Linked DNA regions of Homo sapiens. The protein of the gene in region 1 interacts with the protein of each later gene in a pairwise test. Each region holds a gene or a part of one and is shown on either strand. Other genes may lie near its edges. The genes, in order: SEPTIN1, AMOT and DNAJB13.

Region 1 (11,680 bases):
ACTCCATCTCAAAAAAAAAAAAAAAAAAAAAAAAAAAAAAAAAAAAAACCCGTCTCTACTAAAAATACAAAAAATTAGCTGGGCGTGGTGGCAGGTGCCTGTAGCCCCAGCTACTCGGGAGGCTGAGGCAGGAGAATCACGTGAACCCGGGAGGGGATGTTGCAGTGAGCCCAGATCGCACCACTGCACTCCATCCTGGGCGACAGAGCGAGACTCCGACTCAAAAAAAATAAATAAATAAAAATAAAAAAGAATGTAAGTTTATTCATTTGTTCCACAAACATTTCCTGGGTATCCATCAGGTACTGGGCATTTGTGCTGGGAAATAGAAGAGGGTATAAATGGTCAGCATGCCTGCCATATTCATTTGCAGAGCTGCCTAACTCTGACTTTGAGAGGACAAATCCTATAGTTATTAGATCTGAACTTGAATTAATGTCTAAAGATATAGAAGTCCCTCAAGGGATGCAAGGGGTGGGGAAGAGGTAACTGTGAAGACATGATGGCAAGATGAAGAAGAACTAATACGGGCTGGGCATAGTGGCTTACACCTGGAATCCTAGTGCTTTGGGAGGCCAAGGCAGGAGAATCATTTGAGGTCAGGAGTTTGGGACCAGCCTGGCCAACATAGTGACCCCATCTCTAAAAAGAAAAAAGAATTAGCCAGGGATGGTGTTGCAAAGCTATAGTCCCAGCTACTTGGGAGGCAGAAGTGAGCCCAGGTGTTCAAGACTGCAATAACCTATGATCGCACTACTACATTCCAGCCTGGGCAACAGAACAAGACCCTGTTTCTAAAAAAAAAAAAAAAAAAAAAAAAAAAAAAAAAAAAACTAATCCAAATGACTAAATAATTACTAAATGGGAAGAGAGCTGTCCACCACACACTGCCCTATATGAAACTCAAGGTACTGCCTTCCTTTGTCAAAGCAAACAAGCCCCAAATATCATATGAATGATTCGCCATAATTAGTTGGAATTAATAAGCATGGAAATGGACTATGGTGTCACTGTTAATTCATATAAACTCTACATTTAACACAATGACCAAGCAAGAGCCTTTTTTTTTTTTTTTTTGAGACAGAGTCTCACTCTGTTGCCCAGGCTGGAGTGCAGTGGCACGATCTCGGCTCACCACAACCTCTGCCTCCCAGGTTCAAGCAATTCTTCTGCCTCAGCCTCCCAAGTAGCTGGGATTACAGGCGCGCACCACCATGCCCAGCTAATTTTTGTATTATTATTATTTTTTTTTTTTTTTTGAGATGGAGTCTCGCTCTGTTGCCTAGGCTGGAGTGCAGTAGCACAATCTCGGCTCACTGCAAGCTACACCTCCCGGGTTCACGCCATTCTCCTGCCTCAGCCTCCCGAGTAGCTGGGACTACAGGGCCCACTACCACGCCCAGCTAATTTTTTGTATTCTTAGTAGAGAGGGGTTTCACCGTGTCAGCCAGGATGATCTCGATCTCCTGACCTCGTGATCCGCCCGCCTCAGCCTCCCAAAGTGCTGGAATTACAGGCATGAGCCACTGTGCCCAGCCAATTTTTGTATTTTTAGTAGAGACAGAGTTTCACTTTGTTGGCCAGGCTAGTCTCGAACTCCTGATCTCATGATCCGCCTGCCTCAGCTTCCCAAAGTGCTGGGATTACAGGCGTGAGCCACCACACCCGGCCACAAGAGCCTTTTTTGCAGGGTTGTTTTCTTTTTGTTGTTGTTTTTGTTTTTATTTTTATTTATTTTTATTTTTAATTTTCTTTTGAGATAGAGTCTTACTCCGTCGCCCAGGCTGGAGTGCAGTGGCGCAGTCTCGGCTCACTGCAACCTCTGCATCCTGAGTTCAAGCAATTCTCCTGCCTCAGCCTCCTGAGTAGCTGAGATTACTGGTGTGCGGCACCACGCCCGGCTAATTTTTGTATTTTTTTTTTAGTAGAGATGGGGTGTCGCCATGTTGGCCAGGCTGGTCTTGAACTCCTGACCTTAGGTGATCCACCCACGTTGATCTCCCAAAGTGCTGGGATTACAGGCGTGAGCCACCGCGCCTGGACTGTGGTTGTTTTTTTTGAGACAAGGTCTCGCCCTATTGCCACTGCACCTGGCCTGGCATTAATATGTACAAATGCTTAAAATATATAACTTCCTGGGCCGGGTGCAGTGGCTGTAATCCCAGGACTTTGGGAGACCAAGAAGGGAGGATTGTGTGAGTTCAGGAGTTCAAGACCAGCCAGGGCAACATAGCAAGATCTTGTCTTTACTAAAAATCAAAAAGCTTAACTGGGTATGGTGGTGAACACCTGTAGTCCCAGCTAAAACAAACACAAAAACTAAAACAAAAACAGATAATGTACATGTGCATGTATCATAGAAAGATGTAGAGAACAGGCCTGGCGTGGTGGCTCACACCTGTAATCCTAGCACTTTGGGAGGCTGAGGTGGGTGGATCACCTGAGATTGGGAATTCGAGACCAGCCTGACCAACACTGAGAAACCCCATCTCTACTAAAAATACAAAAAAAATTAGCCAAGCGTGGTGGTGCATGCCTGTAATCAATCCCAGCTACTTGGGAGGCTGAGGTAGGAGAATCGCTTGAACTCAGGAGGCGGAGGTTGTGGTGAGCCGAGATCGCGCCATTGCACTCTAGCCTGGGCAACAAGAGAAAAACTCCCTCTCCAAAAAAGAAAAAAAAAAAGATGTAGAGAACACATGAAGCAACAAAAGCATGTTTCCAAAGTTATAATGTGACCCTATTTTTATAAATATAAACAGTGTGTATACATATATATAGGCGTACGAGAAGGATAAATACTAAAATTGGGTTATAGAAAGATAGTGATTGGGAGGCCAAGGTGGGCAGAGCACCTGAGGTCAGAAGTTCAAGATCAGCCTGGACAACATGGTGAAACCCTGTCTCTACTAAAAATACAAAAATTAGTCAGGTATGATGGCAGGCATCTGTAATCACAGCTAGTCGGGAGGCTGAGGCAGGAGAATCACTTGAACCCAGGAGGCAGAGGTTGCAGTGAGCCGAGATCGCGCCATTGTACTCCAGCCTGGGTGACGAGGAAAACTCTGTCTTTTTTTGGTTTTGTTTTGTTTTGGAGAGGAAGTCTCACTCTTGTCCCCCAGGCTGGAGTGCGATGGTGCGATCTCCACTCACTGCAACCTCTGCCTCCCGGGTTCAAGTGATTCTCCTGCCTCAGCCTCCCGAATATCTGGGATTACAGGCATGCGCCACCATGCCTGGCTAATTTTTGTATTTTTAGTAGAGACAGGATTTCAACATGTTGGCCAGGCTGGCCTTGAACTCCCGACATCAGGTGAACCGCCCACCTAGGCCTCCCAAAGTGCTGGGATTACAGGAGTGAGCCATGGCGCCCCGCCGAAACACTGTCTTTAAAAAAAAAAAAAAAAGGCCGGGCGCGGTGGCTCACGCCTGTAATCCCAGCACTTTGGGAGGCCAAGGCGGGCGGATCACAAGGTCAGGAGATCGAGACCATCCTGGCTAACACGGTGAAACCCTGTCTCTACTAAAAATACAAAAAAATTAGCCAGGCATGGTGGTGGGCACCTGTAGTCCCAGCTATTCGGGAGGCTGAGGCAGGAGAATGGCGTGAACCCTGGAGGCAGAGCTTGCAGTGAGCCAAGATCGTGCCACTGCACTCCGGCCTGAGTGACAGAGCAAGACTCTGTCTCAAAAAAAAAAAAAAAAAAAAAGGCCAGGTGCAGTGGCTCATACCTGTAATCCCAGCACTTTGGGATGCCGGAAGTTCAAGACCAGCCTGACCAACATGGTGAAACCCCATCTCTACTAAAAATACAAAATTACCTGGGCGTGGTGGCACATGCCTGTAATCCTAGCTACTCGGGAGGCTGAGGCAGGAAAATCACTTGAACCCGGGAGGCAGAGGTTGCAGTGAGCCGAGATCACACCATTGCACTCCAGCTTGGACAACAAGAGCGAAACTACAAGGGCGAAACTCCATCTCAAGAAAAAAAAAATGGTGATATCACATTAAAAAATATATTTTTTTCGAGGTAGGGTCTGGCTCTGTCACACAGACTGGACGATCCTCCCACCTCAGCCTTCTGAGTAGCTGGGACCACAGGTGCATGCCACCATGCCCAGCTAATTTTTGTATTTTTTGTAGACATGGGGTTTCACCATGTTCCCCAGGCTGGTCTCGAATTCCTGAGCTTAAGCCATCCTCCTGCCTCAGCCTCCCAAAGTGCTGGGATTACAGGCATGAGCCACCACTCCCGGCCCACATTTAAATGTTTATATTTCAATTGCATTTTATAATTTTTCTATGAAAACATGTGTTGGTTGTACAATAAACAGATAAATATATATCATCCTAAATTTTGTATTTTTTTTGAGACAGGGTCTCGCTCTGTCACCCATGCTAAAGTGTAGTGACACCACAATGACTCATTGCAGCCTCAAATTCCTGGGCTCAAGTGATCCTCCTGCCTCAACCTCCCAACTAGCTGGGGCAACAATTGTGCACCACGATGCCCAGCTAATTTTTTTTTTTTAATTTGTAAAGACAGGATCTCACTGTGTTGCTCAGGCTGGTCTCAAACTCCTGGCCTCAAGTGATCCTCCCACCTCGGCCTCCCAAAGTGCTGAGATTACAGACATGAGCCACTGCCTGGCCTACATGTTATCCTCTTTTTTATTTATTTTTTTAATACAGATCGGGTCTTGCTATGTTGACCAGACTGGTCTTGAACTCCTAGCCTCAAGCAATCCTCCCACCTCAGCCTCCCAAAGCACTGGGATTACAGGCGTGAACCACCACGCCCAACATTTTTTTTTTTCCTTTAAACATGTTATTCTGTCAAAGGCTGTTGAATAACTCAGAGAAGAGTTGATCAGGGTCTGAACCCAAAGCAGGTTAATGGCATGGAGAGTGTGAAGAAAAGGGGACCAATTTTTCTGAAGGATAGGTGGGAATTGGAAACTCACTGGAAACACTTGTGGGGAGTGAGAGTGGGAGGAGTTCAGAAAGTTTTTTTTCCTTTTTTTTGAGACAGAGTCTTGCTCTGTCGCCAGGCTGGAGTGCAGTGGTGTGATCTTGGCTCACTGCAACCTGCGCCTCCTGGGTTCAAGTGATTCTTGTGCCTCAGCCTCCCAAGTAGCTGGGATTACAGGCACGCGCCACCACATCCAACTAATTTTTGTATTTTTAGTAGAGACGGGGTTTCACCATGTTGGCCAGGATGGTCTCGATCTCCTGACCTTCTGATCTGCCTGCCTTGGCCTCCCCAAGTCCTGGGATTACAGGCGTGAACCACCACACCCGGCTGATTTCAGAATTTTAACTAAGACCATAGAGATGCTCAACCTGGTGAGAGATGCAGGAGGAAGGCCGGTGGTGGAGTGCTGAGAGGTAACATGATCCCTGCCCTTTGCTTATTTATTTATTTATATTATTATTATTATTATTATTATTATTATTATTATTATTATTATTTGAGAAAGAGTTTTGCTCTTGTTGCCCAGATTGGAGTGCAATGGCACAATCTCAGCTCACCGCAAACTTCACCTCCCAGGTTCAAGTGATTCTCCTGCTTCAGCTCCCGTGTAGCTGGGATTACAGGCATGCGCCATCACGCCCTGCTAATTTTGTATTTTTAGTAGAGTCAGGGTTTCTCCATGTTGCTCAGGCTGGTCTCGAACTCCTGACCACAGGTGATCTGCCTGACTCAGCCTCCCAAAGTGCTGGGATTACAGGCATGAGCCACCGCGCCTGGCCTACTTATTTATTTTTTTGAGACGGAGTCTTGCCCTGTCGCCCAGGCTGGAGTGCAGTGGCAGGATCTTGGCTCACTGCAACCTACGCCTCTCAGGTTCTAGCAATTCTCCTGCCTCAGCCTCCCTAGTAGCTGTGATTACAGGCGTGCACCACCATGCCTGGCTAATTTTTGTATTCTTAGTAGAGACGGGGGTTTCACCATGTTGGCCAGGCTGGTCTCGAACTCCTGGCCTCAAGTGATCCGACTGCCCTGTCCTCCCAAAATGCTGGAATTACAGGCATGAGCCACCGCACCCAGCCCCCCTTTCCAGATTCTTAACAGTCCCTAGATGGTATTAAGTAGCATTTTTGTTTGTTTGTTTTTTGTTTTTTGAGACGGAGTCTTGCTCTGTCACCAGGCTGGAGTGCAGTGGCACGATCTTGGCTCGCTGCAACCTCCACCTCCTGGGTTCAAGCAATTCTGCTTTAGCCTCCTGAGTAGCTGGGACTACAGGCAATGCCACCATGCCCAGCTAATTTTTTGTATTTTTAGTAGAGATGGGGTTTCACCATGTTGGCCAGGATGGTCTCAATCTCTTGACCTCGTGATCTGCCCGACTCAGCCTCCCAAAGTGCTGGGATTACAGGTGTGAGCCACCGCAGCGGTCCTGAGGTAGATTTGTTTGTTTGTTTGTTTGTTTGAGATAGGGTCTTGCTCTGTTGCCCAGGATGGAGTGTAGCGGTGCAATCTCGGCTCACTGCAACCTCCACCTCCTGGGCTCAAGCAATTCTCTTGCCTCAGATTCCCAAGTAGCTGGAATTATAGGTACGCACCACCATGCCTGGCTAATTTTTGTATTTTTGCTAGACAGGGTCTCGCCATGTTGGCCAGGCTGGTCTTGAACTCCTGGCCTCAAGTGATCCACCCGCCTCGGCCTCCCAAAGTGCTGGGATTACAGGTGTGAGCCACCACGCCAGCCAGGTGCTGGGAATCTGAAGGAGGGACAATGACCCTGCCTAGGGTAGGTGGAGAGATTGCATAGAGGCAGAGCCCTTGGAAAGAAACACTTGAAGGATGAGGAAGAGTTTAACTGATTCAGAAAAAGGAAAAGCTCAATGTGGGTAGAGAGCCAAGGACGTTTGGAAGAGTGAGAGATGGGGTGATGAGGCCAGCTGAGGGAGGCTTTGGCAGTCAGGCCAGAATTCAGACTTGACTCTGAGTTACTGGGGAGTTCCTGAAGGATTTTGAGCAGTGGAGTTCTTTGGCCAGGATTCTGAAGGAAAATCTCTCGGGCAGTGGTGTCCAAAGACCTGGAGTCCTTTTATGAATCCATTGTCTGAGCTGGAAAATGTATGGCTTCACCCACTCCCAATCCCATCATGGCTTCTGGTCCACTTTTTTCTTTTTCTTTTTTTGAAACAGCGTTGGCCTGGCATGGTGGCTCACGCCCGTAATCCCAGCAGTTTGGGAGGCCGAGGCGGGCAGATCACGAGGTCAGGAGATCGAAACCATCCTGGCTAACACGGTGAAATCTCGTCTCTACTAAAAACACAAAAAAATTAGCCAGGCGCGGTAGCAGGTGCCTGTAGTCCCAGCTACTCGGGAGGCTGAGGCAGGAGAATGGCGGGAACCCGGGAGGTGGAGCTTGCAGTGAGCCGAGATGGCGCCACTACACTCCAGCCTGGGCAACAGAGCGAGACTCCGTCTCAAAAAAAGAAAGAAAGAAAGAAAAAGAAACAGGGTTTTGCTGTGTTGCTCAGGCTGGAGTGTAGTGGTGTGATCACAGCTCACTGCAGTCTTGATCTTCTGGGCTCATGCAATCCTCCCACCTCAGCCTCCCCAGTAGCTGGGACTACAGGATTGTACCAACATGCCTGGCTAATTTTTTAATGTTTTGTAGAGATGGTAGAGGGGCACGTCCCTCTGTTGCCCAGGCTGGTCTGGAACTCCTTGGCTCAAGCTGTCCTCCCTCCTCCGCCTCCCAAAGTGCTGAGATTACAGGCGAGAGCCACCTTGCCCGTCCTGGGAACTGTTTTCTAATCAGCTCATCAAAACCTTCATCTCCCCTGCTAACAAAGGGAGCCACTTCCTTCCTCTCTGCACATACCCCATGTCTCACCACGATGATGGAGCTACAGTGGGACTTGGAATCCAGATGTGTGAAGGATGGAGGGTTGAAGGTACGTAGACAGGTGATGGGCAAAGGGGTCCAGGAGGTGGCAACCCCAAGTGTTCTTGGCCTTGGCCTTCCCCACCTCTCTGGGACTGGGCCAGTTTGAGCATCTCAGCTGCCTCTTCTGCCCGCCCCCTTGTTAGCCGCACTCAGCTTCCTGCCCCACCAGAGGAAGTGGGGAGAGACGGCAGGTGCAGTGATGGCTGGCGGAGTCATGGTGAGTCCTTACACCCAGAAACCTGGGCATCTCGGCCCCCAGCCCCCATGCCTGGGGTCCCCAGACCCCACTGACTCTTCCTAGCCCAGGAACTCAAGTGATCCTGGGGACCCTGCCTGCCATTGCCAGCAGCCTCATATTGTCCACCCCCATCCATAGGACAAGGAGTACGTGGGTTTTGCTGCCCTCCCCAACCAGCTGCACCGCAAGTCTGTCAAGAAGGGGTTTGACTTCACGCTAATGGTGGCAGGTCTGGGGGTTTTGGAGAGGGAACTGCGGAGGGGATGTCCTTAGGAGGCCCTGGCTGTCCCCTCCCCTGACCAGTTGGGCCTGTTCTGTCCACAGGGGAGTCAGGCCTAGGGAAATCCACCCTCATCAACAGCCTCTTCCTCACCAACCTCTATGAGGATCGCCAGGTGCCAGAGGCCAGTGGTAAGACCCTCCCCACCCTCTTGAGGCAGTAGCCCCTGTCCCCAGGTTACACCCTAGTCTTTTCCATCTGGGGACTCAGGTAGTTGACTGCTTTTTTTCTGAGACTTTCCTCCCCTGGGAAATGGGTGCAGGCAACTGTGATATTGACAAAGGAAATTAATTCTGCCTCAGAGCCTCCCCGGATCCCTGACCTCTCCCCCATCCCACAGCTCGCTTGACACAGACCCTGGCCATTGAGCGCCGGGGCGTAGAGATTGAGGAAGGGGGTGTGAAAGTGAAGCTGACCCTTGTGGACACACCTGGCTTTGGGGACTCAGTGGACTGCTCTGACTGGTGAGGAAGAGGAAAGGGGACAGAGGCTCAGCCTTTCACAGTGGCGACTCCCTGGAGAGTTACAGGACTGGTTTGTGCTGGCTCCCTATCTCAAAAGGTGGTGTCTGTTTCAGAGGGCCACTGGGTCCCTGTGCTTCTTGATGACTCACCTAGGCCCCCACCAGTTCCCCTTAATGTCTTTGGAGGGAGCCAAAGAAATGACATTCTACTCCCACAGTCCTGGCTAGCCTTGCCCCCTGCCCTCTGGCCTTTGATCTCTGACCTCACATCCTCTCCCCACACCCAGCTGGCTTCCGGTGGTGAAATTCATCGAGGAGCAATTTGAGCAGTACCTTAGGGATGAGAGTGGCCTGAACCGGAAGAACATCCAGGACTCCCGAGTCCACTGCTGCCTCTACTTCATCTCACCCTTCGGCCGGGGGTCTGGTGGGGGGATCCTGGGGGCTGGCGCATTTAGGGAGGGCTGGGGGGTCTCTGCCCCCTGAGGCTGGGCAATGACCAATCCCTGGGTGCAGGCTCCGGCCCCTAGATGTGGCCTTCCTCCGGGCAGTACACGAGAAAGTCAACATCATCCCAGTCATTGGCAAAGCGGATGCTCTGATGCCCCAGGAAACCCAGGCCCTCAAGCAGAAGGTGTGAGTGATGACCTCTGACCTTTGACCCCATGTGAAGCCAAACCTGATTTCAGCTTAGACTTCTTTGATCTTGAAGTGGCCTTTCTGGAGCATGGTGCATCAGGCTAGATTGTAGGAGAAGCTTCTGAGGAAGGCGGGTGGTAAGCCGCCAGCATAGCCATGTCTCTGAAGGCTCAAAATAGGCTACATATGCAGCCCCCGGGCTAGATGCCTGGCTGAGGCCTATTTGAGGGCAGGAGCATAGACATGAGAACATAGTGACTTCCCTCTGGCCCCCACCCCGTGTCTTCAGAGCCCTTTCCCACTGTTTCTGCTTATATCTCTCTCGGCCTCTCTTTCTCTCTCTTTTTTTTTTTAGATAGAGTCTCACTCTGTGGCCCAGGCTGCAGTACAGTGGCAAGATCAGAGCTCACTGCAGCCTCGAACTTGTAGGCGCAAGTGATCCTCCTGCCTCAGCCTCTTGAGTAGCAGGGACTATAGATGAACACCACCATGCCTGGCTAACTTAAAAAATATTTTTTTGGCTGGGCTTGGTGGCAGACACCTGTTAATCCCAGCACTTTGGGAGGCTGAGGTCAGTGGACTGCTTGAGCTGAAGAGTTTAAGACAAGCCACGGCAACATGGTAAAACCCCATCTCTACAAAAAGTACAAAAACCAGCCAGGTGTGGTGGTGTGCACTTGTAGTCCCAGTTACTCAGGAGGCTGAGATGGGAGGATCACCTGAGCCTGAGAGGTTGAGGCTGCAGTGAACCAAGATGGAGCCACTGGACTCCAGCCTGGGTGATAGAGTGAAACCTTGTTTCAAAATATATGTGTATATTTGTTGTAGAGATGGGATCTAGCTATATTGCCCAGGCTTCTCCTGGTCTCTTAATGTCTGCCCCATCTTAGAATCTTGTGTTTCTCACCATCTATGTCTCTGAGATTTTGTTTTTGTCTTCCTGTATGTCCATCTCTCCCCATCTCTGTCTTTCATGTCTTTCTCTCTGTCTCTGACCACCCAGTATCTCTGTGTCTCACTGTCTCTGGTCATGAAATGTCTGTCATTGTGGCCCGTTTCACACTGTCTCTATATCTGTTTCCCCTGAGATCCGGGATCAGTTGAAGGAAGAGGAGATCCACATCTACCAGTTCCCCGAATGTGACTCTGATGAAGATGAAGACTTCAAGAGGCAGGATGCAGAGATGAAGGTGTGGGAAACAAAGAAGGAAGGCAGGCCGGGCACGGTGGCTCACGTCTGTAATCCCAGCACTTTGGGAGGCTGAGACGGGAGGATCCCCTGAGGTCAGGAGTTCCAGACCAGCCTGGGCAACATGGCGAGACCCCACCTCTACTAAAAATACACAAATTTGCCAGGTGTGATGGTGGGCGCCTGTAATTCCAGCTACTCGGGAGGCTGAGGCAGGAGAATCACTTGAACACTCCAGCCTGGGCAATGGAGTGAGACCCTGTCTCAAAAAAAAAAAAAAAAAAAAAAAAAAGAGGAAGGGGCAGGAAGCAGAGGAGGCGGGTGTGGAGATTGAAGCTGGGAAAGAGAAAGTTTCTGCCGTGTGAGCCAATGGTGAACCCCTGCCCCCTGCCCTCCAGGAAAGCATCCCTTTTGCAGTCGTGGGATCATGCGAGGTGGTGAGGGATGGCGGGAACCGGCCGGTGAGGGGACGCCGCTACTCCTGGGGGACCGTGGAGGGTGAGTGAGGCCAGGCAGGGGTCCTAAGGCCAGCAGGGAGCCCGGGGCCTCTGGGTCAGGCGCACTCAACATGTGAAGTTGGGGTGGGCTTTGGTCCCAGGGGATCCTAGGAGGAAAGGGGGGTCGCTGGGCTGCAGACCGCGGACCCTCCGCTAGAGTGGCAGCAGGACTTTCCTGTAGACCCGACCCTTACGGGTGGGTTGGACCCGAAACTCCCTGACGTTCGCTGGTCCGCGCCGCCCCCCCTCCAGTGGAGAACCCACATCACTGCGATTTCCTGAACCTGCGACGGATGCTGGTGCAGACACACCTGCAGGACCTGAAAGAGGTGACGCACGATCTGCTCTACGAGGGCTACCGGGCCCGCTGCCTACAGAGCCTGGCCCGGCCTGGGGCTCGCGATCGAGCCAGCCGCAGGTGAGACCCGGGGCGGACAGTATCAGAGCCTCCAAGGTCCCGCCTCAC
Region 2 (11,741 bases), on another chromosome or scaffold:
AATTAGGGGAGATACCCTAAAATAATTACCTTGCAGATTTGAGATGATTTTGCTTTTGATCATGATTATATGTTGTGCCAAAACAAGATGGAAAGACACATTTCCGTGTTTGTTCACTCTATATCTGTTCACTTTATTTTTGGCAACATTGCAAGGAAATAATGTTAAATTAATCACTTTGTGGTTTTGTGGAGTTTTTAAAAACTTGAATGTTTTGAACATGCTCTCAAAATACAGAGATGTTTGTGTACTTCTTTTGCATTGCTTTCCTCCTCTCATGGAGTCACTGGTGTGGATTAAGCCTTTCCTTTAAGTGATATGAATGAATCATACATAGGCCAGGATAGAAGATAGGAATGTGGTTCATGTGCATGTCACTTAAACTCCTGAGTCTTAGAATCATTTTGATTAGGCTGACAAGGCTTTGCAGAGAGTCCAGGCAGAAATTAGACATAAGGACTATCTCAAATCCAGGTCTATTATTCATTTGCATCCAGTCTATATAATGTAAGTCTATGAGTTTTTTTTACTGAGACACTGGGGCAGTGGAAGTGCCAAGAAAGCAAGTGGAGGCATCTTCTGCTTGGAGAAGGGTTGCGCTCTGTGTTGGGAAGGGCAGTCTACTTTCCTACTCCAAGAATGGATGGACCATTGATCAGATGATCAGAGTGTAAGCTCCATGAGGGCAGGAATTATATTTTATGTGTCTTTGTAGCCCTTATTGTGTCTAGTATGAGGCTGACAAATGTGTGGAATAGTTGATACACAATAAATACTTAATGACTTGGTTGAAAAGAAGGTTCTTCCCCTCCCCTCCACCTATCTGAGCTTGAGGCACTCAAATTGGGAGCCTCACTGAGTGTTCTTTTTTTGACCAAAAACCTACCTTATGATGACTGCCCTCCCTTCTGGGATGTGGGACAGTGAGCCTCACTAACCTCCCCTGCTACTAATAGCAGTTTAAAGTTTGCACCCTAAAGGTGACAGTGGTTTTGGCTTTTGTCATCATCCACCATTCCAACTTGGAATGGAAGTGGTAGCTTTCTAGGGCTGTGAGGTCAGAACAGAGCAAGTCTCAGACCTGAACATTTCCATCACTGGAGACTGGCCTGGCCTTCCGGACACAGCTACTGGACACTGAGGTTTCTTTTCTGCCCTAGTGGAGATGGACTCTGCTACTCATTTAAAAGCCAAGCACCATAGGAGGACAAGTCATTCTCTTGGAAGAACTGGTTTGATTAACTGCTGGCCATTGGTGGCAAAATAGAAACGACGTTTTTATTTCTCCCTCCCTCCCTCTCCTGAACATTTCAGAGTGACCAGTGGTTGGACTCTTGGCGGCGCTTACCCTGAACCTGAGTGTTAGGGGAGAGGGAATCTGCCGTTGCGGTTTCTGGAGCTGCTCATAAGCAAGAATTCCCTATCCTGATCAAGGCTTTAAGCCTAAAAGAAAGCAGAAATAGGTATGGAATATTTCTGTGTGTGTGTGTGTGTGTGTGCACACGCTCGTGCATGTGTGTATGCATGTGTGCCTGTGTGCATGCTGGGTGGGGTGGGTGTGACGTGGGAGGGGGTGGTATACTTTTCAGGGTCCAGGGCAGCTCAGTGTCTGCATTTCCCTGCCTTACAGGGAGGGTTTGTAAATCACTTTTGCTTTAACACCATACTTGTTCCTGTTTCCAGTTTGTGAGCAGGGAAAAGTAATTTGGTAGTCATCTCTCTAGTTTTGGGCACCAAAAAGGATTTATATATTATGCTTGTCAGCCTATCAGAATATCCCAATTTGACAGTTCAAGTACAGGAGTCCTGGAGGCACATTGGGAGGAATGGAAAAGGGACTGGGTTGCTTAACCCACTGGTGTGCACTTCCCAAGAGAATATGATGAGAGGGACTTTGGAGGGTCCCTTCGTGTTGTCAGACTGCCCAGCGCAACAGTTGGAAGCCAGGTAGCAGTAACCAACAAGACGTGAAGAAAGAGAGAAGATGAACTTTCTTCATATACTATATGTACATTCTGGGTCACTCTCTCTCTGCATGACCAAAAGAAAGGGGTTCGTGTTTCCAGAGAGATTGCAGGCCACTTAATATCATAGAAATAAGAGCCTGGGAGCCAGGGATCCAGAGTTGCCATCTAGAAACCTGATGCTGGTTAAACTGACCTTTATTGTGACTTTTCGTGTGACATTATGTTCATTCTCCACCAATTACTGAAGATCCTTAGAGTGAAAGTTTCATTATTGAACATTATTACTTAATTCCAATACTTAACATTGACAGATTCTGCCCAAAGAATTTTTGAATCTCTAATGAATTAGTGTGTACTATACAGTGCTGAGAGAGAGAAATCACCTACCAGCCATTTTTTGTTGAGAAAATAGACATCAAGAAAAGAGGAATCAGTTGTATACCCTGTAAACCAATAGTATGATTAGAATTTGAATATTAAATTGTGTTACTAAAATCAGTTTCAGTCAACCCATAGTACCTGTTCAGAAGAATTGATGGTGAGGGAGGGGATATGCTAATCGTATACCCTTTCCAGAAGGATGATCTTTATATTTTTCAATTTCTAAATTTTGTCAGAGGCACACTTCAAATAAAAGAGGCTTCCCCTTTAAGCTTCTACCCAATAACAATAACAGCAAATCTAAATGACTGTTTCTGGAGAGCTGAAAGGCAACTTTGTCAGTAATAAGTATTCCAAGTCCTTCTCTTATTAAGCCAAGGAGCATCCAAAATGGAGACTATGAAAATGATTTTTTAAAAAGATGTTTCAGAGCCTTATGAGATCAGAGAAAAAGATTTGCATCGAGGCAGGGATCATTACTGTCTGGTGCAAGCCAAGCTCTCTTCACCTTTTATTTATTTGAGTCTTTATTTTGCATTTTGTAGCTGCCTTCATATGCTGAGCTGCTTTACAAATCCTGTTATGGGGTAACTTTCCCCACTGTCCTGCCCCCACCTCCACAGCCATAAGATTTGGGTTTTTGCTTTAAATAGAATACAGAGAGATGAAGCCTGTGAATATGGACCTTGAAAAGTTACCCCCTTTGATTACCCTAGTTGACTGTTCCAGGTTTCTCAAGCATTCTTAGGAGTTAAGTCCAGATTGAATATTTAACTCATGCTAAAAGTGAAAGAGAAAACCTAGAGCTCTTATGCCTCCATGTTCTTCATCATATCAGTGCTAGGGCCTGGAATCCCCAACAATCTATTAATTTTAGAGTCAATTCTCTACTTTGTTTCTGCAATCGAATCCTCACCCTCCAATATCCATTTTCTTTCCCTTTAGAGGACTGATTTATCCATCAACTGGGTGTTAAGCTTCCTGTTTCCCCTTCCCAGGTCAAGGGCAGCCCAGGTGCCCAATTTCTCTCTCTCTTCACAAGGCACCACCAGCAATAGAGATGAGAAATTCTGAAGAACAGCCAAGTGGAGGGACCACGGTATTGCAGCGTTTGCTACAAGAGCAGCTTCGCTATGGCAATCCTAGTGAGAATCGCAGCCTGCTTGCCATACACCAGCAAGCCACAGGGAATGGCCCTCCTTTCCCCAGTGGCAGTGGGAACCCGGGCCCTCAGAGTGATGTGTTGAGTCCCCAAGACCACCACCAACAGCTTGTGGCTCATGCTGCTCGACAAGAACCCCAGGGGCAGGAAATCCAGTCAGAAAACCTCATCATGGAGAAGCAGCTGTCTCCTCGAATGCAAAATAATGAAGAACTCCCGACCTATGAAGAAGCCAAGGTCCAGTCCCAGTACTTTCGGGGCCAACAGCATGCCAGTGTTGGAGCTGCCTTCTATGTCACTGGAGTCACCAACCAGAAGATGAGGACTGAGGGACGCCCATCAGTTCAGCGGCTCAATCCTGGAAAGATGCACCAAGATGAGGGACTCAGAGACCTTAAGCAAGGGCATGTCCGTTCCTTGAGTGAACGACTAATGCAGATGTCACTGGCCACCAGTGGAGTTAAGGCCCATCCACCTGTTACCAGTGCTCCCCTCTCCCCACCACAACCCAATGACCTCTACAAGAATCCCACAAGTTCCAGTGAATTCTACAAGGCCCAAGGGCCACTTCCTAACCAGCATAGCCTGAAGGGCATGGAACACCGAGGCCCCCCACCAGAATATCCCTTCAAGGGCATGCCACCCCAATCTGTAGTGTGCAAGCCCCAAGAGCCAGGGCACTTCTATAGTGAGCATCGCCTGAACCAGCCAGGGAGAACAGAGGGGCAACTGATGAGGTATCAGCATCCCCCTGAGTATGGAGCAGCCAGGTAAGAGAGTTCTGTTTCTGTCATTTCCTGACCTCATCCCCAACCAGCTTCTGCTGTGTGTTGGGAATCTTAGGGAAGGAACGGGCAGGTGTTTGATATAACAAACTCTGCAATGCATGACAGGCCTCTGGCTTCGTGAATTGCCTGCCAACCCGAATTTGTATCCTCTTTAGCCATAATTAGCACTGTATTAACAATCCCTTAGCTTTGTAGGTTGAGCATGGCCTCAACTGCCTAGTGGACGAACAGGAGCAAAAGTCTTGTTTTCAGCAGCTATTTGCTGTCCTCTCTCCTAGGATGTTGAAGGGGTCTGTGTTTCTCATAAGCCCTCCTTGAGAGGTAGAAGCAAATTACCTTGCACTTTAATTAGTCTGGAACATCCTATCACTTGCACATATTCCCCTCCATGAAGCTTTCATCATTTATTTTTGCAAACAAATCTGTGTATTTCTTGTCAGTTACCATTTTTCCATAGAATTACCATTATTCTTTTGGACTAAACAAACACCCAGATGTTATGGTGGGGGAGCTATGTATGTATGTAGGTTCAGAATGTTACTTGCCTTATGCTTGCAGTTTATGAAATCTGGACTGTTGTATCTTTTTTTTGTAGAGAATTTATTAGTTGCCTGTCACATTTTTAAACCTCTGAGTTAAATTCCCATCACATCATATAGAAATTTTGGTCAGATGCTAAAATACAGAAGGAAAAATATTACCATTTCTGTCTTATATATTTAGTTGTTCCTATATATACTTCTTAATTATTCAGAGGTCCATTGTCCCACTGCTATATTCACTAGACCTTATGATTCTATGATTCTGTTCATTGTTCCTGTTGTTAGTATTTGGGCCATGTCTCTGATCAGTAGTATTTCCACATATAGGGCAGGAGAAAAGGTTTAAACCATGGGGACCGATGGTGGCATTTAAGTGTGGTATCCTGCCTCATGGCCATGAGTAATGATGGGTGACCATCAGGTTTGAAGTGCTTGGTCCTAGGCTGGCCTTCATTTATATGCGGCTCACAGACTAGGTCTGTGATGTCCTTTGATGTCTACCTCTTTGTCTCCTGTACCCTACTTGCTCATTTTGGAAAAAACCTTCTGGCTTGAAGTTCATTGAGTGACTCAGGAGAGAAGGCAGTCATGGGGTGGAGTAGGGTGAAAGTGAGAGAAGGCACCTAGCATTTCCTGGTATTTCTTTTTTTTCCCCTGCAGGTCCTGTTTTTGTAGCCAGAGGCAATTCACTTTGGACTCCACCTCTAACTTTGCCAGTTTAGGATTTTTTTTTTTTTTTCCCTCTTAACCCAGGTTGATTTCCTAACCCTTTTCAACCTCCTCTGTGCAGCTTTCAAAGGGCAGGAGCCTATGTTCTGATCAGTGTCTTGGAACAGGAAATGGGGTAACCAACAAGGCTACTCAGGTTTAAAAGAGATCAAGAACCAGATTCCCATCTGACCAATGAAACAGAAGACCCAGGGAGGGGTTGGTCTGTTCAAGACTGCCTCACTTAGTGGAAACCCATTCAAGCCAGCAAAATATCAATGAAGCTGGGGGTTTTTATTTTGCTTTTCCCATCAGTATGGAAGAGTCTGTTGATGGGCTGATGTCTGTTGCCTTGTGGGAGGGGAGTGTGTTGGCTGGGGTGTGGAGCAGAAGCCACAGCCCCACTCAGCACACAGCCCGCCTTCCCAGGAAAGCTATTTTCAGAACTCATTCACCAGTATTGTTTGTGATCTGAAATGACTCCCACAGTGTTTGAAGCTAGATGGAAAATTATCTGCCCTTTGATCTGCCTAAATAAATAATGAGGAGCCCAAAGAGGTTTTCTTTTTTTTTCCTTTTCTTCCCATCCTGATTAAACCACCGGAGAAATTTAGCTGCATGTATTTTACAGGAAGATACATATTTTTTATCCTCCCACCTAAGTTATCTGTGGATTTCTCTTTCTTTCTGTCCTCAAAAGCAACAGAGCCCATGATGATCTACCCTTGTTGAGCAGCATTTTAATACACAGTTTTGCTGTAACAGGTTTTTCTCTATGGGAAAGGAGCAGAGTGCTTGATAATGCTTGATGAATAAGCAAACCTAAAATGGCCCTAGTGGGAGGATGCTCCATATGAAATTTGGGTCTGCATCAGGCAAATACTGGCCGTAAAATTGTTGCAGGGCCCTACATGAGGGAGTGGCACCTATTGACAAATTACTGGCAAAAGGAGGTAGTTGAACTGCTTTCCAGAAGTGTACTGCTTTAAGGTGGTGACACATTTTCCCTCCTTTATTTCCTTTAACCAACTAGCTATACAGTTTGTGAGTACCTTTCCAAGTAACTGCTGCTAGCAGCAACCAATTAGAAGACTACATTCTGAGCCCTTAATCCACAAATTACAAGTCAGGATGCAAAGCAAACTCTTTGAACAAATTGCTGTTAAGAAAACATTTGCTTGCTTTTCGAGGTGCAGTGAACTGCTGGAGATTTGCTGTTAAAATGAACAAAATTATAAACAATCCTTTTATTACTTCATCTTTCTTATGCCCTCCTCCCCTTAAAAAATAAATACCTTGAATGCCCAGAACCCCAGATGAGAAACAAGGCAAAGGCTATCTGAATAATTTTAAAATTTCAGAATCTTTGTCTTTCTAAGTGCTGAACCTTTTCTGCATCCTGGGTTTATACATTTATCAACTGCTTTTAAAAATTAAATCATTTCTGTTTATAAAGCAGCCACCTCCTTTCAATTGTTGAAATCATGCCCAGATCTGAGGTTTCTTGAAATCCTTGTTTAGTGGAATCTAAGGGTGACCTAACTCTGTAGTTCAGAGCAGAGCTGGTTGTGCAAGAGAAACCATCAGGAATTTGCAGCCTGCTCCAGGATTCACAGATTCACCGATTCACCATTGCAGAGCCTGGGAAAGGCAGTTTCTGTGGTGAGGATCAATCAAGTTCCAGGCTATTGGGTGGCACCTGCTCTGGTGAGAGTGTGTGTGCAGGATTGCACATGTGTGTGCCAGGAGTGTGGAGTGTGTGTGTGCATGCACATGTGTGCATGTGTGTGTGGCTGGGGAGGGTGAGGGCTCCCAGTCATCGAGGTGGCAGGGTGGAAGGTGCTGTGTCAGCTGGGTAGAGTGGCTTTTACTTTCCCTTTGAGTCCTTACTACTGTCTCTGGGAGGAGTGTACCCCCCACCCTACCCCACTTCCCAGCTTTGGGGAGGATCCTGATTTTAGTCACTGGCCTTTGTCCTGCATGTATGCTATGTCCCCTTTTCTGCAGAGCCCCAGTGGCCCAGGTAGCCTTAGGAAGGAGCAGGATGAGGGGACGGAAGTGGCAGGAGGCAGGTCAGGGCTTGCATGGAATCATGTGATTCTGTTGTCTGCAGGCGGCTTGTTGTTCCTGGTTAACGTGTCAGTGGGGAGCGATTCAGGCTGCTGTGTGCTGGAAGGACCTGGAGAGTGTGCTGCTCACATGGCTGCCACCTTTATTATTACTGTCATTACTTTTACTGTTATTATTTAACTTGGGGTGTATTTTGGCTTCCTCTGACATCCGCCCCCTCCAACTCTCCCTTACCCCGTCATTCCTTAATCTCTTTTTCTCACGGGGAGCTTCACCCCAGTGTTCATTCCGTCCTGCTTTCCCCTGGTGGGTGGATGCTGGAGCCCAGATTGAGTTCTTCACTGAAGGGCTTTCTCTCCCTTTGTGACTGCCCAAGCCATTGCTGGTTTGCAAACCAGCCAGTGACGGGCTGCCTTGGTTTTCCCAACATCACGGTGCACTGAGATCTGCTTCCTTTTCCAGCCTGGGGAATTGAGGGGCAGCTGCCTTGTCTCTGCTTATCTTCATCCTCAGCTTATCTGACCCCAGAGACCTCCTTCTGGAGACCTCATGGTCTCCTCCTTCCCAAGGTCCCTGGAAGGCCATGTGCTGTTGTCCAGGGAATGCAGGGGCCTTTCAGTCTCCAGGCAGGAGGGAGGCCAGTGGCTGAGTTTGTTTGAGAGAGAGGCCTGGGTTGCTTGATGAGGCCCAGGGGAGCTGTGGAGAGAAAGCCCATTTCAGAACTGGGCGTTCAGTCTTTAAAAGAGAATACCTCCCAGGCCTTGGACTGCAAATCCTGGGAACAAAAATGAAGGTTAATATAGTGATTTTTTTCCCTTAAAATTTGAGAGCTGCATTGGAGAACATGAAACTTAAGCCCCTCTTTTCTGCCCACAAAGCAGAAAAGAGACACACAAGCCCCAACAAATCTCAGGACATTATATTTTAACTCTGTAGGCATGTAGAAATTGTAATAGCTCTCATTCAAAGAGAAAAAAGAGCACTTAGTCTTTTACCTGTGAGGAAACTGAAGATCCATAGAATGGAAAATAGGAGCTCTTCACCAAATAAATGTATAAATAACTCCCAGGCTTTTGATTGAATGAGTGCTTTGAGCTCTGGGGAAAAATATTATGTATGGCAGCAACTTTCCAGTTGTACTTATGAGTACCATGTCAATTCTTCTTTGCCCAAATAGTTCGCATGCCCTCTTCAATATTCAGCAATTATTTATAATGACAGATGTATGTGATTGGAAGAATGTGGGTACACCAGAGGCATAGATGGGCCTGAGCGACAGAATCCAGGGTTTGTACAGGTTTGAGGACTCTTGGGGAAGATGTAGGTTATTGGGTATCCATGAGAAAGTGTTTGGAATGATTTTGTAGCTGTAAAAAGCCCTTATAGTTAAGATCTCTTGTAAAGATGGATACATGAACAGTAATGGTAACTGGAGTGTGTGTCTGAGGAATGTGCTTTAGCATCTGGAATGCCAGTTAAAAGTTAATTGCTCCTGGTGATTTGTCCCAGTTCCACCATGAATTTTATGCAATTTATTGCAAAGATTAAATGGATATCCTTTAAGTAACAAGCTAACAAGGTCAGCTTATCTCACTGGGAGGTAGAGAAGTGACTGTAATTCCTATTCCGCCAAAAATGAGAAGACCCCAGTATTTTTGCAATTTATTTGTGACCTCAAGAATAAAATGGGCTCATGCAGATTAAGTAACTTGCACCAAGTTACACAGCTCGTGAGCAGTAGAAGAGGTCTCCAGACTCCCTCTGTTGGGATCCAGATCCCATGCACTTAGCCATCTGTCTTCCCTGGATTGAGAAATATCAACTGTAGAACAAGTGTCCACAGGACATGGGAGCATATGAGGTTAATTGGGCATGAGCTAGGGCATGAACAAGCTTTTTGTCTTCAGTGCACACTGACAGATACTATTCCTGGTAGTGGTGATGGTGGAAGTGATCCATCCACATACTAATTGTTTCCCTTAATGGCTAATAGTCATTAGGTATGAATTATTTATACTTAGGTGTTAGCATTTTGTACCTGGTAATTAGGTACAAAAATGGGAGAGCCACATTAAACAATGTACCAAAGGTCTCTTTCTGGAACTTTCTATGAGCAATAGGTTGGAAATCTAAGTATCAGTGCACAGAAATCAATGCATTATGGCAGTAGAAAAAGCCAGAAAATGGGAATTGGGAAAGAAGGATTCTATCTTGGCACCACCACTCTAATATTTGGCAGATGACTTCCCCTTTCTGGACCTCATTCCCCATCTGTCCAGTGATAGAGTTGAACTAAATAATTTTCTTTTAAGGCCTTTCCAGTTCTTACATTTTGCGATTCATTACATCAAAAATAGTATGTTAGCATTGCTTGTAACCCTCTTCAAGTCTTTTTATGGTTACTGCTAATGGGAATCATTAAATCGTTAACAACTGGAAGCAACAATAATCATTTAGTGTCTCTAATATAAGTATCTACCAATCCTTGAATAGTTTTTTTTCTTTTTTTTTGTGAATGTATGAATTACTAAAGGGAGTTGCAGATAGCAAGATGGGGGTGGTTTTTATGGCTGTTTGTTGTTTCCATCCTGGCAAATGGAACATAGTTTCTAAACTAGGATCTTTATGTGTGCTGGACCACGTGTATAATGTCAGAAAAGGTTTAATTTAAAATAATGAGATGAAAATTACCTTGTAGAAGAATCGTTTGAAATGTTTAGACTTGAGCAAACGGGTGTACAGGTGTGTATCACTACGATTTTCACAAAGTGACCATGGAAGTTGTCTGGTTCTGACCCTCATGGGATCACACCTCTGTTTGTCAGGCAGAGGCACAGAAGGTCAGGCTGGAAAAGGGCTGTGGTCTTTGCAGAGATAGAGCAGGCAGGGTTAGACTTCCCCATAGTCAGACCCTGCCTGCTCTTCATTTTGCAGGTGTCCTGGGGGCATCAGAAGCCTCCTCATCTCACTTTTGTGTGCCCTTCTCCCCCAGTGCCTTAGGAGAGAAATTAACCCGCACCTGCCCTTCATGTTTTACAGGCCAGCGCAGGACATCTCATTGCCATTGTCAGCCAGGAACTCGCAGCCTCACAGCCCTACTTCTTCTCTGACCTCTGGGGGGTCCTTGCCCTTGCTACAATCTCCACCATCCACTAGATTGTCTCCTGCCCGACACCCCTTGGTCCCAAACCAGGGAGACCATTCAGCTCACCTGCCTAGGCCGCAGCAGCATTTCCTTCCTAATCAGGCTCACCAGGGGGATCATTACCGTCTCTCCCAACCTGGCCTGAGTCAGCAGCAGCAGCAACAGCAGCAGCAGCACCATCATCACCATCACCACCAACAACAGCAGCAGCAGCAGCCACAGCAGCAGCCAGGAGAAGCCTATTCAGCTATGCCTCGGGCTCAGCCATCCTCTGCTTCTTATCAGCCAGTGCCAGCAGACCCTTTTGCCATTGTTTCCAGAGCCCAGCAGATGGTTGAGATCCTCTCAGACGAGAACCGGAACTTGAGGCAAGAGTTGGAAGGATGCTATGAGAAGGTGGCAAGACTGCAGAAGGTGAGGCTTCCGTTTTGGGATATTAGGGTCTCTAAGTCTTTATTTGTGAGACTTGTTTAATATCCACATTAAAGTCTCCAGTTGTGAATCCCAGCATTACTTGTGGCAGGTCTTCAGGATTTTTATATCTGAAGGTTAGATATGAGTCAAACTTTGGAAAAAGCCTTCTACCTGTCTACCTAGGAGAAGTAACGTCTTACATTTACACAAGGAGAAAAAAATTTATGCAGTTTTTCCAGACGCTATAGCCCTAAAGAAAACGTGATTAATTCTTTTAGAATTCCAAAAGGCAGTGATACTTCTTGATAAGAATACTGGTGATGCCTTTATAGGTAAAGGATCTGACGGCACCTTAAGGCTCATTGTCTTGGTCACATTTTCCCAAATATGAATTTGAATCTTAAATATAAAAATAAATGTAGTTCCTAGAAAAATCTCACCAGCTAAAGTTTGAGCAGTCCTGCCTTGTTCTGGAAAAGGCTCAGAATACTTTTTCCTAGTGGGAGTTCTCATAGTAACTCTCTTTCAACAATCCCTCCACCCCACCCTTTGATTTGGTCCCTC
Region 3 (7,497 bases), on another chromosome or scaffold:
TCCTGACCATTGATGTGAAGCCCGGTTGGAGGCAGGGCACACGCATCACCTTTGAGAAGGAAGGGGACCAGGTGAGGGGGGAAGAAGCTGACTCAGGTCAGTCACTGAGCTCAGGCGGTGGGAAGACTGAGGAGGAAAGGAAGGGAAAGGAGGCAATACTTTTTCCTGCCCCTGTGAGCCTTGGTCTGTAGAGAGCCCAGTCTGCAGAGTGGGTGAGATGGGATCCCTAATGTTCCTTCCAAGGAACAGAGCCTTAGCCTTACAGTGCTTCTGTGAACAGGCAGCCCAGGGACTGTCCCCATTTTACAGAGTGGGAAATGGGGGCCCAGAGAAGAAAGGGACTTGCCCAGGGCAAGAACATGGGAGCTGAAAGGAGATCCCAGTCTGAACTCCAGTGTTTTCCTGATTTTCTTCAGTGCTTCTCAGAATAAAGCCCAATTACAGGAGCTACTCAGAAACCATTTAATCATAATAATTTTATTTATTTATGTATTTATTTATTTATTTATTTTTATTTTGAGATGGAGTCTCACTGTCGCCCAGGCTGGAGTGAGGTGGCATGATTTCAGCTCATTGCAGCCTCCACCTCCTGGATTCAAGCAATTATCCTGCCCCAGCCTCCTGAGTAGCTGGGACTACAGGCATGTGCCACCACGCCCAGCTAATTTTTTTTTTTTTTTTTTTTTTTTTGAGACAGAGTCTCGCTCTGTTACCCAGGCTGGAAGGCAGTGGTGCGATCTCAGCTCACTGCAAACTCCGCCTCCCGGGTTCAAGTTATTCTGCTGCCTCAGCTTCCCCAGTAGCTGGGATTGCAGGCATGCACCACCACACCCGACTAATTTTTGTATTTTTAGTAGAGACGGGGTTTCACCATGTTGGCCAGGCTGGTCTTGAACTCCTGACCTCAGGTGATCCACCTGTCTCGGCCTCCCAAAGTGCTGGGATTACAGGCGTGAGCCACTGCGCCCAGCCACCCAGCTAATTTTTGTATTTTTATAGAGATAGGGTTTCTCCGTGTTGGCCAGACTGGCCTCGAAATCCTGACCTCAGGTGATACGCCTGCCTCGGCCTCCCAAAGTGCCTGGGATTAAAGGTGTGAGCCACCGTGCCTGGCCTATTAATAATAATTTTAAATTAAATACTATTTAAATAAAAACATAAATTTATTGTCCAAGGCGTGCTGAATCCTTAAGTCCTGAGAAGAGGCATTCAGAGCCAGGGAAGACACATTCCTTTGCCTGCACTTTTTGCCCCCTTTCTCACCTATGAAACATCTACCTCCGGTCTGGCCTGGTGGCTCACACTTATAGCCTCAGCACTTTGGGAGGCCAAGGCAGGAGAATCACTTGAGCTCAGAAGTTTGAGACCAGTCTGGGCAACATAGCGAGACCTTGTCTCTACTAAAAATAAAAAATTTAGCTGGGCATGGTAGTGTGTGCCTGTGGTCCCAGATACTCAGGAGACTGAGGCAGGAGGATCTTTTGAGCCGAGGAGGTCAAGGCTGCAGTGAAGTATGATCATGCCACTGCACTTCAGCCTGGGCAACAGAGCGAGATCCTGTCTAAAAACAAAACAAACAGACAAAATACAAATAAAACATCTACTTCGAATAAACACGCTTCAAAACCCAGCTCCAGTGTTCCCCGCTCTGGGCAGCCTCCTCTGAGCCCCAGCCTCTGGGCCTCCCTTTATCATGTCTTGAGCGTGCTGAGGATTCACTGTCAGTGTTAGGGGCCAGTCTGATTCCTCTGTCCCCAGCGCCCAGAAGAGACCTCAGCAGAGTTTTGGTGACTTAATGAAGTTTGGGACAGGGGTGTCATGCCTGGAGTTACTAGCAAGACAGAGACATACGGGCAGTTGCCTGACGCCCAGCTTAGTGTTCCACCTGCCTGCCGTCTGAGGAAGCCTCTCCGCCCCTCCAGCTGAGTGTGTCTATTTTGGGCATGCTCAGTACAGAAGTAATTCTGGGGGGATTCATTTGGGTAAGCTTCTCGGGCTTCTAATCCATCTGGGCTATGGGGGCCAAACTGAAAAGGCCCTTCCAGAAAACCTGCTCTCATCTCCCCATTGTACAGATGAAGACATGGAGACAAGTAGAGGCAGGAACTTGGCCAAGGTCACACGGCCAACTAGTCCTTGTCACCTTTTGGCGTCCCCTGCCCAGGGCCCCAACATCATCCCAGCAGACATCATTTTCATCGTAAAGGAGAAGCTACACCCTCGCTTCCGCAGGGAGAATGACAACCTCTTCTTCGTGAACCCCATCCCTCTTGGCAAGGTGAGTGGGCAAAGTGCAGGAGCAGCGGGGAGGAGATCAGAGTGAGCCCTGCCTGCCCCGGCCTAGACTTGGCCTCCCCTCCCACAACCACCTGCCATCAGTCACTAAGCCCTGTGGATTCCACCCTCTAAATCACCATCCACTTGGTCCCGTCTGCTCATCTGCACCGCCTGGATCTGTACACCAGATCTGCGCAGCAGGCCTTCCTCCCCACTTCTCATCTCCTCCAGGCTCTTCTCCTTAGGGATCCTGCCACACACTCATCAGACCCTGCCACACTCCTGTCTAAACATCTTTGTGCCACTGGAGGCCCTCTGCGATCTGCTCCCTGCTTACTCCTTCCCCTGCACTCCCGCCCCTTCGCCGCATAGCACCCTGCCTGTGTGGCGCATTGTCACACCTCCGTTCTCATTTCTGCTGGGCCCTCTCCCTGGAATGCTGTCTATTCACCTGACCCTATAGGGTCCTCATCAATAGCTACCACCACTGCTACCACTTCCTGCCCCACTCCTGAATGGTTTAGGGGCCTCTCCTTGGCTCCCACAAACGCTTTTATTCTGTCTCCATCATTACATTTATACAACATCCATCTTACCTGCCAGATCCATCCATCTTTCCTGCCAGTGCAGAAAATTGCATGGGTCATTCACCTATTAGTTATTGAACAGCCTCGTCTCCCTTGTGCCCAACTCACAGTCTGGCACTGGACAGGTTCCTAAGGTGCCTTCTAAATAGGAGAGCCATGGTGACCCTCCTCAGCCCCACCTTTGGCCCTGACCCTCCCTAGGCTCTCACCTGCTGCACTGTGGAGGTGAGGACCCTAGATGACCGTCTGCTCAACATCCCCATCAATGACATCATCCAGTGAGTCCATCTGCCTTGGGCCCCAGTAGCCAAGAGAAGGGCTAGCCTGGGATTTAGGTGGTAGTGTGACAGGTCTGCCCAGTAGAGTTGTACAGGCTGCCCCCAGCAGAAGGGTTCCCTGCTGAGGGGATAGAGAGGACCAAAACTGAACCCACACTGGCCAAGCTGTGGGCTGCAATCACCTGGCAAAAGGAACATCTTTTTCTAATCCACACAAAGCCACTGCAGAGGCTAGAGGCCCCCATTGTTGGGCAACCCTGTAGCCTCCATGCCCTGCAAACTTCTCATTAGAGTTCTGAGTTGCATATCCTAAGTCCTTTTCCAAGAAAGGCCCTCTGCCCGTGAGGAGGTTTGCCTGGCAGCCCAGCACCCTCGCCCTCACCCCAGGGTTTGCTCACCTTTACTTCCCGTTTCCCATGTCTTAAACAAAGTTTCTGGAATCCTCCATCAGAGACTCAGTGTAAACAGGTTTTCAGGGAGCTCCTTTCCCAACCAGTTCTGGCTAAGAACCACTCCAGGTGAAGACTGCAGTGACTGTCCCCTTCCTGGGGTTATGTGAGTAGGGGTTATATGACAGGGACCTGCTGAGGTGCTGCTCTGGGATGCCCTCTATGCTCCTTTCTTTCATCCTATTTCAGCCCCAAATACTTCAAGAAGGTGCCAGGGGAGGGGATGCCATTGCCGGAGGACCCCACTAAGAAAGGGGATCTCTTCATCTTCTTCGACATCCAGTTCCCCACCCGCCTCACACCCCAGAAGAAGCAGATGCTGCGCCAGGCATTGCTGACATGACTGTGGTGGGCTGGAGCAGGGGTGAGAGGAGGCTAGCCGGGCCTCACCCCACCCCTACCCGCCACAGCCTCAGGGTGTGCAGGGGAGCCTGCTGCACAGATATGATACAAGGGTGGGATGGCGCAGGGCTTAAACTGACATAATAAAGATCTATTTCCTGTCCTCCAGCTACACCCACGAGAGTACATTGGAGAGGAGCTTCATATTAGCCCTTCTTGTGGGGCACAGGGAAGAAAGAGGCCTAAGGAGCTGAGTGCCTGAGTCCCTGTCCTGGCTTTGTGGGAAAGGGCAGGTAAGGGTTCAGATCCTCTGTGCTTCCACTTTGATAGAGTGGGGCAGGGCTGTGTGGCCTCTGAGGGTCTCTAGCTCTGCTCTGGCTTTTCATGACAGAAGAGACAATCTCTGGAGCATGATATGGTCACGTTAGAGACAGGAAAACTAAAGCACAAAAGAAAACATTCATTGCAGGTCACTCAGGCCTCAGTGGCAAAGCTGTCATCAGAACCTTGAAGGTGGCTGGGTGCGGTGGCTCATGCCTGGACTTTGGGAGGCCAAGGTGGGCGGATCACTTGAGGTCAGGAGTTCGAGACCAGCATGGCCAACATAGTGAAACCTCGTCTCTACTAAATACAAAAATTAGCCAGGTGTGATGGTGGGCACCTGTAATCCCAGCTACTCCAAAGGTTGAGGCAGGAGAATTGCTTGAACCTGGGAGGCAGAGTTACAGTGAGCTGAGATTGCACCACTGCACTCCAGCCTGGGCGAAAGTGAAATTCCATCTCAAAAAAACTAGAAAGGCCGGGTGTGGTGGCTTATGCTTGTAATCCCAGCACTTTGGGAGGCCGAGGCAGGTGGATCACCTGAGGTCAGGAGTTCAAGACTAGCCTGGCCAACATGGTGAAAACCCGTTTCTACTAAAAATACAAAAATTAGCTGGGCATGGTGGCGAGGGCCTGTAATCCCAGCTACTCGGCAGGCTGAGGCAGGCGAATCACTTGAATCCAGGAGGTGGAGGTTGCAGTGAGCCGAGACTGCGCCACTGCACTCCAGCCTGGGTGACAGAGCAAGACTCTGTCTCAAACAAAAAACAAAAAAAACCCCCAAAAACCTTGAAGGTCACTTCCCACAGACTCGCCCTGCGTAGAGAAGCAGCATAAAGAACACATGTGCACTGGAAACAGCTTTGGTTCTACCTCTCTGGCCTCAATCCCCTGGTCTGTGATAGGGTCCTGGGCAGGGTGATCTGGGAGGCAGGAAACCTGAGTTCTGACCCCAGCCCTGCCACTTTCTCCTGGGACCAGTCACCACACCTGTCTTGTCAGTAAAGCAGAGCCCATAACCCCCCTCACGGGCATGTTGTGAGGACAGAGAACATTGATGTGAAAGTGCTTGGTGAACTCACTGCTTAGATTCAGGAAGGGGTAACAGCACTGCTGCCCTCAAGGCCTGGAGTTCCAGCATCCAGGTCCAACTGGGCCTGCGTAGACCACACTTGCCTCCTCATAGTCAACACGTGTGTTATGCTCCCCTTCCATGCCAGGGAGGTTCCCTTCTAGAGTCTGAGCTTGGGTGAGGATAGATCCAGGCTTACGGGGAGTAGGTAGCCAATTCCATGGAATGCCTTCAGAGGTGCCAGAAAAGGCCCCATGTTCTCCAGATTGCTTGGGACTCCACCATTCAAATCACATCAGCTTAAGGTTTTTTTTTTAAAACGGGGGTTCAGTAGCACTTTTGTCATTAAAAAAATCACCATGGGCTGGGCGCGGTGGCTCATGCCTGTAATCCCAGCACTTTGGGAGGCCGAGGCGGGTGGATCACAAGGTCAGGAGTTCAAGACCAGCCTGGGCAACATGGTGAAACTTTGTCTCTACTAAAAATACAAAAATTAGCCGGGCATGGTGGCATGCACTTGTAATCCCAGCTACTTGGCAGGCTGAGGCAGGAGAATCACTTGAACCCAGGAGGCAGAGGTTGCAGTGAGCTGAGATCTTGCCACTGCACTCCAGCCTGCACGACAGAAGAGACGCCATCTTAAAATTAAAAAAAAAATCACCATGAAGTCAGCTACCCAAAGACCTTGAGGTGAAGACTCTGGGACCAGGGCTCCAGGAAGCATTTCAGCATAGTAGTTAAAAGCATGTGGGCTTTGGAGTCAGACACACCTGTTCTGGATCCCCAGTGTGCTACTAGCCAGCTGTGTGCCTTTGGGCAAATCACTTCACCTCTCTGAACCCGTTTCTTAAAGCTTACAGCCCCTACCTTGCAGGCCTTTCATGGAAACCAGATGGTGAGGCATGAAATGCTCTGGGGCAGGACTCAGGTGGAGTGGGATGGTGAGAGCTGCCCTGTTCTGAGGGCAAGCCCTGAATTGGAGTGCAGAGGCAGGGCTGTGAAATTCTTCAACTCTAGGTCTCCTGTAGGGCAGCAGGAAAGCCTACTCCTTATCTTGAAGGAAGCCTGGGTCTTGGGCCTGAAAGTCCCTTAGGAGATTCCTATTACCTTAGTGATCTTCAGTGTTACCTTGAATTAGGCAAAGCAGGGCTTATCATCTGCCCACTTAATAGGCATTAAAGGGTTGGGAACCAAAGAGAAGTGATCTACCTGTGATCAGAATGAATGAGACCCACTGGTATGTTTTCCAGTGGTTCCTACCACTGTTCCCAGCTCATTGTCCTAAGGCCACACCCAGAACCACAGTGAAGTTGGGTAGCCTCGTGTCTATTAAGGCTGCTGAATGAACCAGCTGACTTGCTCATGCCCACCCAGCCTGTTTAGCTTTGACACACACCTACCAAACTGCCCCTACTTCTTCCCGTCCAGAGCAGAGCTAACAAACAGCCTGCCTCACAGAATTAGTGTAAGAAGGTACATAAAGTAGTGGCCAGGTCCTCTGTATATGCCACCCCCTGCAGCCTGGCTGAGCTGCCTGTCACCTTTACCCTGGTTTGCCGACTTATGGCACTCAACCCTGTCCCTCCCGAGGACTATGGGGCCTCAGCTCAATTTGTCAAAAACTAAGAAGCTGAAGAATCCTGGGCCCTCGTTCCTTCTCCAAAAACCAATCTAACACCCTGGCCCTCAACCCAAGCACTGAAGGGTCTAGCCTCCAGCTCTGACCATTGGGCTTACGAGGCGGCGAAGCAGCAGTGGCTTCAGCGGCTTGAGGCTGAGGGAAGAGGGAGGGTGGTCGTGTTCTCAGGGCCTAGCTCCACAGCTGCCAAACAGGCTTCCCCAAGGACCCCAGCACTGGTCTCTGGGGGAGTCCACAAGGGGAAGGAGGACTGGGTCCCGGTCCCAGTTCAGTAGTGGACTTTCTGGGTGTTCTTGCCTGCATCACCTGTGTCAGGCCTCAGTTTCTTCAGACACCTACAAACTGGGTCTGAGTGACATAATTCTAAGGGCCCAGCCCTACAGGAGATGCCTTGGGATTCCAGGACCTCACAGTCTCCACTCCTTGAAATTGTAGTACCCCTGCCCACCTGCCTCTGAGTGCAGGTGATAAGAACAGGGACAGAGAAGCGGAGACCCCTGTGCAGCCAAGGCCCTGGCTTCTTGCGGCCTCC

Evidence for each region.
Region 2: the proteins of SEPTIN1 (region 1) and AMOT interact in binary tests that used the Homo sapiens proteins (3 or more experiments, as listed by UniProt).
Region 3: the proteins of SEPTIN1 (region 1) and DNAJB13 interact in binary tests that used the Homo sapiens proteins (3 or more experiments, as listed by UniProt).

What each region holds. Positions count from the first base shown.
Region 1 is NC_000016.10:30,378,970-30,390,649, reverse strand, and holds the start of SEPTIN1 (septin-1), read left to right. Parts: upstream 1-8,088; 5' UTR 8,089-8,107; coding exon 8,108-8,125; intron 8,126-8,284; coding exon 8,285-8,375; intron 8,376-8,470; coding exon 8,471-8,557; intron 8,558-8,766; coding exon 8,767-8,890; intron 8,891-9,176; coding exon 9,177-9,311; intron 9,312-9,405; coding exon 9,406-9,523; intron 9,524-10,616; coding exon 10,617-10,718; intron 10,719-11,115; coding exon 11,116-11,215; intron 11,216-11,466; coding exon 11,467-11,632; intron 11,633-11,680. UniProt on the Homo sapiens protein: Filament-forming cytoskeletal GTPase. May play a role in cytokinesis.
Region 2 is NC_000023.11:112,814,794-112,826,534, reverse strand, and holds part of AMOT (angiomotin), read left to right. Parts: intron 1-1,314; 5' UTR 1,315-1,463; intron 1,464-3,346; 5' UTR 3,347-3,408; coding exon 3,409-4,280; intron 4,281-7,096; exon of another isoform or gene 7,097-7,210; intron 7,211-10,657; coding exon 10,658-11,177; intron 11,178-11,741.
Region 3 is NC_000011.10:73,966,181-73,973,677, forward strand, and holds the end of DNAJB13 (dnaJ homolog subfamily B member 13), read left to right. Parts: coding exon 1-71; intron 72-1,758; coding exon of another isoform or gene 1,759-1,791; exon of another isoform or gene 1,792-2,164; coding exon 2,165-2,278; intron 2,279-3,065; coding exon 3,066-3,142; intron 3,143-3,780; coding exon 3,781-3,934; 3' UTR 3,935-4,101; downstream 4,102-7,497. UniProt on the Homo sapiens protein: Functions as part of axonemal radial spoke complexes that play an important part in the motility of sperm and cilia.